2 linked regions of the Homo sapiens genome follow. The protein of the gene in region 1 interacts with the protein of each later gene in a biochemical or structural test. Each region holds a gene or a part of one and is shown in the gene's direction. Other genes may lie near its edges.

The links.
Region 2: the proteins of NHS (region 1) and CFTR form a complex in vitro, tested with the Homo sapiens proteins (one study listed by BioGRID).

What each region holds. Positions count from the first base shown.
Region 1 is NC_000023.11:17,724,700-17,728,199, forward strand, and holds part of NHS (actin remodeling regulator NHS), read left to right. Parts: intron 1-647; coding exon 648-3,500. UniProt on the Homo sapiens protein: May function in cell morphology by maintaining the integrity of the circumferential actin ring and controlling lamellipod formation. Involved in the regulation eye, tooth, brain and craniofacial development.
Region 2 is NC_000007.14:117,591,525-117,595,024, forward strand, and holds part of CFTR (cystic fibrosis transmembrane conductance regulator), read left to right. Parts: intron 1-409; coding exon 410-1,133; intron 1,134-3,405; coding exon 3,406-3,500. UniProt on the Homo sapiens protein: Epithelial ion channel that plays an important role in the regulation of epithelial ion and water transport and fluid homeostasis. Mediates the transport of chloride ions across the cell membrane.

The sequences.
Region 1 (3,500 bases):
AAATTGTGAATAAAAAGTAGCAGGAGTCAATGAAAGTTTTCTTTTTGGAAAATTGTAACTTAATTTAAGAGAGATATACTTTCATGTCATTAATTATTTTAAAAGGTAAATTCCAGGCATATGCAATGAAATATTGAATATTGATAATATGATACCTTTGGTGACAATGTTTCTGTTTAGTGGATTTAAAATATCTCTGCCTATGATTTTTAAAAAATTATTAGGGTATCATCTCTTGCAAATAAGATTTTTATTTCTAATAATGAGACCTATGATTTTTATTTCATCATGTTTATATTACAAAATAAAAATGAAGAGTAGTGGCCAAAAAGATAAAATGTACTTTAGTTTTTAAAAGTAGTCACTTATTGTGGCAAATTAACGTGATAGTGAAGAGAGGGATAATTCACAAAAGACATAAAAGCATATCTTCTCTTGGTATGTATATATACATATATGAGGGGGACGTGTATATACACCCTAAAGCATTTTAACTCTCACCTAATTCTATATATTGATTTTTTTTCTGTTAAAGAAAAAAAAAAACAGCTCTAACCTGCCAGCCCACAGATCTACAGACATAGCTCAGAATGTCTGTTGGTCTGCTGATATAGAAAATATCTCACTGTGCTTTCCATGTGCCCTAGATTCTGATGAATCACCAGTGGCCAGGGAAAGGAATGTGATTGTGCACACAAACCCAGACCCCTCCAACACTGTCAATAGGATATCCGGAACCAGGGACTCTGAGTGCCAAACCGAGGATATTCTGATTGCTGCCCCATCCAGAAGGAGAATCAGAGCTCAAAGGGGTCAAAGCATTGCAGCTTCCCTTTCTCATTCTGCTGGCAACATTTCTGCCCTAGCAGACAAAGGTGACACCATGTTTACTCCTGCAGTGAGCAGCCGCACAAGATCTCGGAGCCTTCCCCGGGAAGGTAATAGAGGTGGGGATGCTGAGCCCAAAGTTGGCGCTAAACCCTCAGCATATGAAGAGGGAGAGTCTTTTGTGGGTGACCATGAAAGAACCCCTAATGATTTCAGTGAGGCTCCAAGCAGCCCGAGTGCCCAGGACCACCAGCCTACTTTGGGCCTGGCCTGCTCTCAACATCTTCACAGCCCCCAGCACAAATTAAGTGAGAGGGGAAGGTCACGTCTGTCCCGAATGGCTGCTGACTCTGGCAGCTGTGACATCTCCTCCAACTCAGACACGTTTGGGAGCCCCATCCACTGCATCTCCACGGCTGGCGTCCTCCTTAGCAGCCACATGGACCAGAAAGATGACCACCAGTCATCCAGTGGCAACTGGAGTGGGAGCAGCTCCACGTGCCCCTCGCAGACCTCAGAAACCATCCCTCCTGCAGCTTCTCCTCCACTCACTGGCTCTTCACACTGTGACTCGGAGTTGTCACTAAACACAGCCCCTCATGCCAATGAGGATGCCAGTGTTTTCGTGACAGAGCAATACAATGACCACTTGGATAAAGTGAGAGGCCATCGGGCAAACTCCTTTACCTCCACTGTTGCAGACCTGCTGGATGATCCCAACAACAGCAACACAAGTGACAGTGAGTGGAATTACCTACACCACCACCATGATGCCTCCTGCCGCCAGGATTTTAGTCCTGAGCGTCCCAAGGCAGACAGCCTGGGCTGCCCAAGCTTCACAAGCATGGCCACTTATGACAGCTTTCTGGAAAAGTCTCCATCAGACAAAGCGGACACTAGCTCTCACTTTTCAGTAGACACGGAAGGATACTATACCTCCATGCACTTTGACTGTGGTCTCAAAGGTAATAAGAGCTATGTCTGTCACTATGCAGCCCTGGGCCCAGAGAATGGCCAGGGTGTAGGGGCTTCCCCTGGTCTTCCAGATTGTGCCTGGCAGGACTACTTAGACCACAAGAGGCAGGGAAGACCAAGCATCTCTTTCAGGAAACCAAAGGCAAAGCCGACCCCACCTAAACGTAGCTCATCATTGAGGAAGTCTGATGGAAACGCAGATATTTCTGAGAAGAAAGAACCAAAGATAAGCAGTGGTCAGCACCTGCCTCACAGTTCCAGGGAAATGAAGCTGCCTCTTGATTTCGCCAACACGCCTTCTCGAATGGAAAACGCCAATCTTCCCACCAAGCAGGAACCTTCTTGGATAAACCAGAGTGAACAAGGCATTAAGGAACCTCAGTTAGATGCTTCGGATATTCCACCATTCAAAGATGAAGTTGCCGAATCCACACACTATGCAGACCTCTGGCTCCTAAATGACTTGAAAACAAATGATCCTTATAGATCTCTATCTAATTCAAGCACCGCTACGGGTACCACAGTCATTGAATGCATCAAATCTCCAGAGAGCTCTGAATCCCAAACATCACAATCAGAATCAAGAGCCACCACCCCATCTCTTCCTTCTGTTGACAATGAGTTTAAACTGGCTTCACCAGAAAAGCTGGCTGGCTTGGCATCTCCATCAAGTGGCTATTCAAGCCAGTCTGAAACGCCAACATCCTCTTTCCCTACAGCTTTCTTTTCAGGTCCATTGTCTCCCGGAGGTAGCAAAAGAAAACCTAAAGTCCCAGAAAGAAAATCCTCACTACAGCAACCCTCTTTAAAAGATGGAACTATATCACTGAGTAAAGACCTTGAACTTCCAATTATACCTCCTACCCATCTTGATCTAAGTGCTCTTCATAATGTCTTGAACAAACCATTCCACCACCGTCATCCACTGCATGTTTTTACTCATAATAAGCAGAACACAGTAGGAGAAACACTGAGGTCGAATCCTCCACCGTCCCTTGCAATTACACCAACGATCCTGAAATCTGTTAACCTTAGGTCCATCAACAAGTCTGAAGAAGTTAAGCAAAAAGAAGAAAACAATACAGATCTCCCTTATTTAGAGGAAAGCACACTCACAACGGCTGCCTTGTCTCCAAGTAAGATTAGGCCGCATACAGCAAATAAATCAGTATCTCGTCAATACTCCACTGAAGACACCATACTGTCCTTTTTAGACTCTTCTGCAGTTGAGATGGGACCAGATAAACTACATTTAGAAAAAAACTCTACTTTTGATGTGAAGAATCGCTGCGATCCAGAAACCATAACATCAGCTGGTAGCAGTCTTCTAGATTCAAATGTCACAAAAGACCAAGTGCGTACAGAGACTGAGCCTATTCCAGAAAACACGCCAACCAAAAACTGTGCTTTTCCCACAGAAGGATTTCAGAGGGTCTCTGCTGCCCGCCCAAATGATTTGGATGGTAAAATAATACAATATGGACCTGGTCCAGACGAAACTCTAGAACAGGTACAGAAGGCACCCTCTGCAGGTCTGGAGGAAGTTGCACAACCTGAATCTGTGGATGTAATCACATCTCAGTCAGACTCACCAACTAGAGCAACAGATGTAAGCAATCAATTTAAGCATCAATTTGTTATGAGCCGCCACCATGACAAAGTGCCTGGTACTATCAGCTATGAATCGGAGATAACAT
Region 2 (3,500 bases), on another chromosome or scaffold:
AGAAAATTTAAAGAGCAACAAAGCTCTGACATTTAAAAGAAATGAAGTACAAATCTCTAGGGACCTTAAAGATCATCTAATAATTTCCTCATTTTCTAGATAAATAAACTGAGAGACCCCGAGGATAAATGATTTGCTCAAAGTCAAATATCTACTTAATATAGGAAATTTAATTTCATTCTCAGTCTGTTAACATGCAACTTTTCAATATAGCATGTTATTTCATGCTATCAGAATTCACAAGGTACCAATTTAATTACTACAGAGTACTTATAGAATCATTTAAAATATAATAAAATTGTATGATAGAGATTATATGCAATAAAACATTAACAAAATGCTAAAATACGAGACATATTGCAATAAAGTATTTATAAAATTGATATTTATATGTTTTTATATCTTAAAGCTGTGTCTGTAAACTGATGGCTAACAAAACTAGGATTTTGGTCACTTCTAAAATGGAACATTTAAAGAAAGCTGACAAAATATTAATTTTGCATGAAGGTAGCAGCTATTTTTATGGGACATTTTCAGAACTCCAAAATCTACAGCCAGACTTTAGCTCAAAACTCATGGGATGTGATTCTTTCGACCAATTTAGTGCAGAAAGAAGAAATTCAATCCTAACTGAGACCTTACACCGTTTCTCATTAGAAGGAGATGCTCCTGTCTCCTGGACAGAAACAAAAAAACAATCTTTTAAACAGACTGGAGAGTTTGGGGAAAAAAGGAAGAATTCTATTCTCAATCCAATCAACTCTATACGAAAATTTTCCATTGTGCAAAAGACTCCCTTACAAATGAATGGCATCGAAGAGGATTCTGATGAGCCTTTAGAGAGAAGGCTGTCCTTAGTACCAGATTCTGAGCAGGGAGAGGCGATACTGCCTCGCATCAGCGTGATCAGCACTGGCCCCACGCTTCAGGCACGAAGGAGGCAGTCTGTCCTGAACCTGATGACACACTCAGTTAACCAAGGTCAGAACATTCACCGAAAGACAACAGCATCCACACGAAAAGTGTCACTGGCCCCTCAGGCAAACTTGACTGAACTGGATATATATTCAAGAAGGTTATCTCAAGAAACTGGCTTGGAAATAAGTGAAGAAATTAACGAAGAAGACTTAAAGGTAGGTATACATCGCTTGGGGGTATTTCACCCCACAGAATGCAATTGAGTAGAATGCAATATGTAGCATGTAACAAAATTTACTAAAATCATAGGATTAGGATAAGGTGTATCTTAAAACTCAGAAAGTATGAAGTTCATTAATTATACAAGCAACGTTAAAATGTAAAATAACAAATGATTTCTTTTTGCAATGGACATATCTCTTCCCATAAAATGGGAAAGGATTTAGTTTTTGGTCCTCTACTAAGCCAGTGATAACTGTGACTATAAGTTAGAAAGCATTTGCTTTATTACCATCTTGAACCCTCTGTGGGAAGAGGTGCAGTATAAATAACTGTATAAATAAATAGTAGCTTTCATTATTTATAGCTCGCAAAATAATCTGTATGGAAGTAGCATATATAAGGTATATAAACATTTAGCCTCTTGATAGGACTAACTCACATTCTGGTTTGTATATCAGTCTTGCCTGAATTTAGCTAGTGTGGGCTTTTTTTTATCTTGTGAGTTTGCTTTATACATTGGGTTTCTGAAAAGATTTCTTTTAGAGAATGTATATAAGCTTAACATGTACTAGTGCCAATCTTCAGACAGAAATTTTGTTCTATTAGGTTTTAAGAATAAAAGCATTTTATTTTTAAAACAGGAAATAATATAAAAAGGAGAGTTTTTGTTGTTTTAGTAGAAAACTTAATGCCTTGGATGAAATGAGCCATGGGCAGGGTTGTAATGAATTGATATGTTTAATAGTATAGATCATTTGTGAATAATATGACCTTTGACAAGACACAAGCCATTAACATCTGTAGGCAGAAGTTTCCTTCTTTGTAAAATGAGGGAATAAAATAGATCCCTAAAGTGTGTAATTTTAGTATTTCTAAACTTTATGAAGGTTTCCTAAATGATAATTCATCTATATAGTGTTTTTTTGTGTGTTTGTTTGTTTGTTTGTTTGAGATGGAGTCTCGCTCTGTCACCTAGGCTGGAGTGCAATGGTGCAACCTCGGCTCACTGCAACCTCTGCCTCCTGGGTTCAAGCTAATCTCCTGCCTCAGCCTCCTGAGTAGCTGAGATTACAGGCATGCACCACCATGCCGAGCTAATTTTTGTATTTTTAGTAGAGAAGGGGTTTCATCATGTTGACCAGGCTGGTCTTGAACTCCTGACCTTGTGATCCACCCACCTCAGCCTCCCAAAGTGCTGGTATTACAGGCGTGTGCCACCACGTCCAGCCTGAGCCACTGCGCCCAGCCCATCTATATAGTTTAATATCAATCTAAATGAATTTCTCAGTCCTGAGCCTAAAAATTTAGTTGTAAAGAATGATATCCTTGACTAATAATAGTTTCTATTAATGGATTGCATCTAGTGCTAGGTGGCATATATTTAGTCCCCACAACTACCCTGGAAGGTATTTAAAATTTTTCACATTTGCAGATAAGGAAACTAAAGTTCAGAGTTCGGCAACATGCTTGAATTCAAGCAGCTCCTAGGATGTTAATGGTGGAGGTTGGGTTCAAATCCAGATCTGTCTGACTCAAAAAATGCATACTCCTAACCAGTGCACTATATCCCAATTCCATAGGAGCCCTTCTTTGTGATTCATAGCACTTTCCCATGAGTTTTGTTGATTTTGTGAGAAACAAAACTCTTTTTCCTTTGGACTGTCTGGAATCTCTCTTTTTCAAATTTTTGAAATGTATTTCTATGCCAAAAGACAAAGATTTCTAGAGGAATATGCCTAGGATGAGAATTATGTAATTTAAATCACAGCTGGAAAGAGAGAAAGTCCTAAGTTACTAAGAAATGTTCAAACACAAATGAGCTTTCAGTCTATTGGAAGACCTTTATAGCTAGAAGTATACTGAACTGTACTTGTCCATGGACCCCTGAAGAAACAGGTTAAATCAAAGAGAGTTCTGGGAAACTTCATTTAGATGGTATCATTCATTTGATAAAAGGTATGCCACTGTTAAGCCTTTAATGGTAAAATTGTCCAATAATAATACAGTTATATAATCAGTGATACATTTTTAGAATTTTGAAAAATTACGATGTTTCTCATTTTTAATAAAGCTGTGTTGCTCCAGTAGACATTATTCTGGCTATAGAATGACATCATACATGGCATTTATAATGATTTATATTTGTTAAAATACACTTAGATTCAAGTAATACTATTCTTTTATTTTCATATATTAAAAATAAAACCACAATGGTGGCATGAAACTGTACTGTCTTATTGTAATAGCCATAATTCTTTTATTCAGGAGTGCTTTTTTGATGATATGGAGAGCATACCAGCAGTGACTACATGGAACACATACCTTCGATATATTACTGTCCACAAGAGCTTAATTTTTGT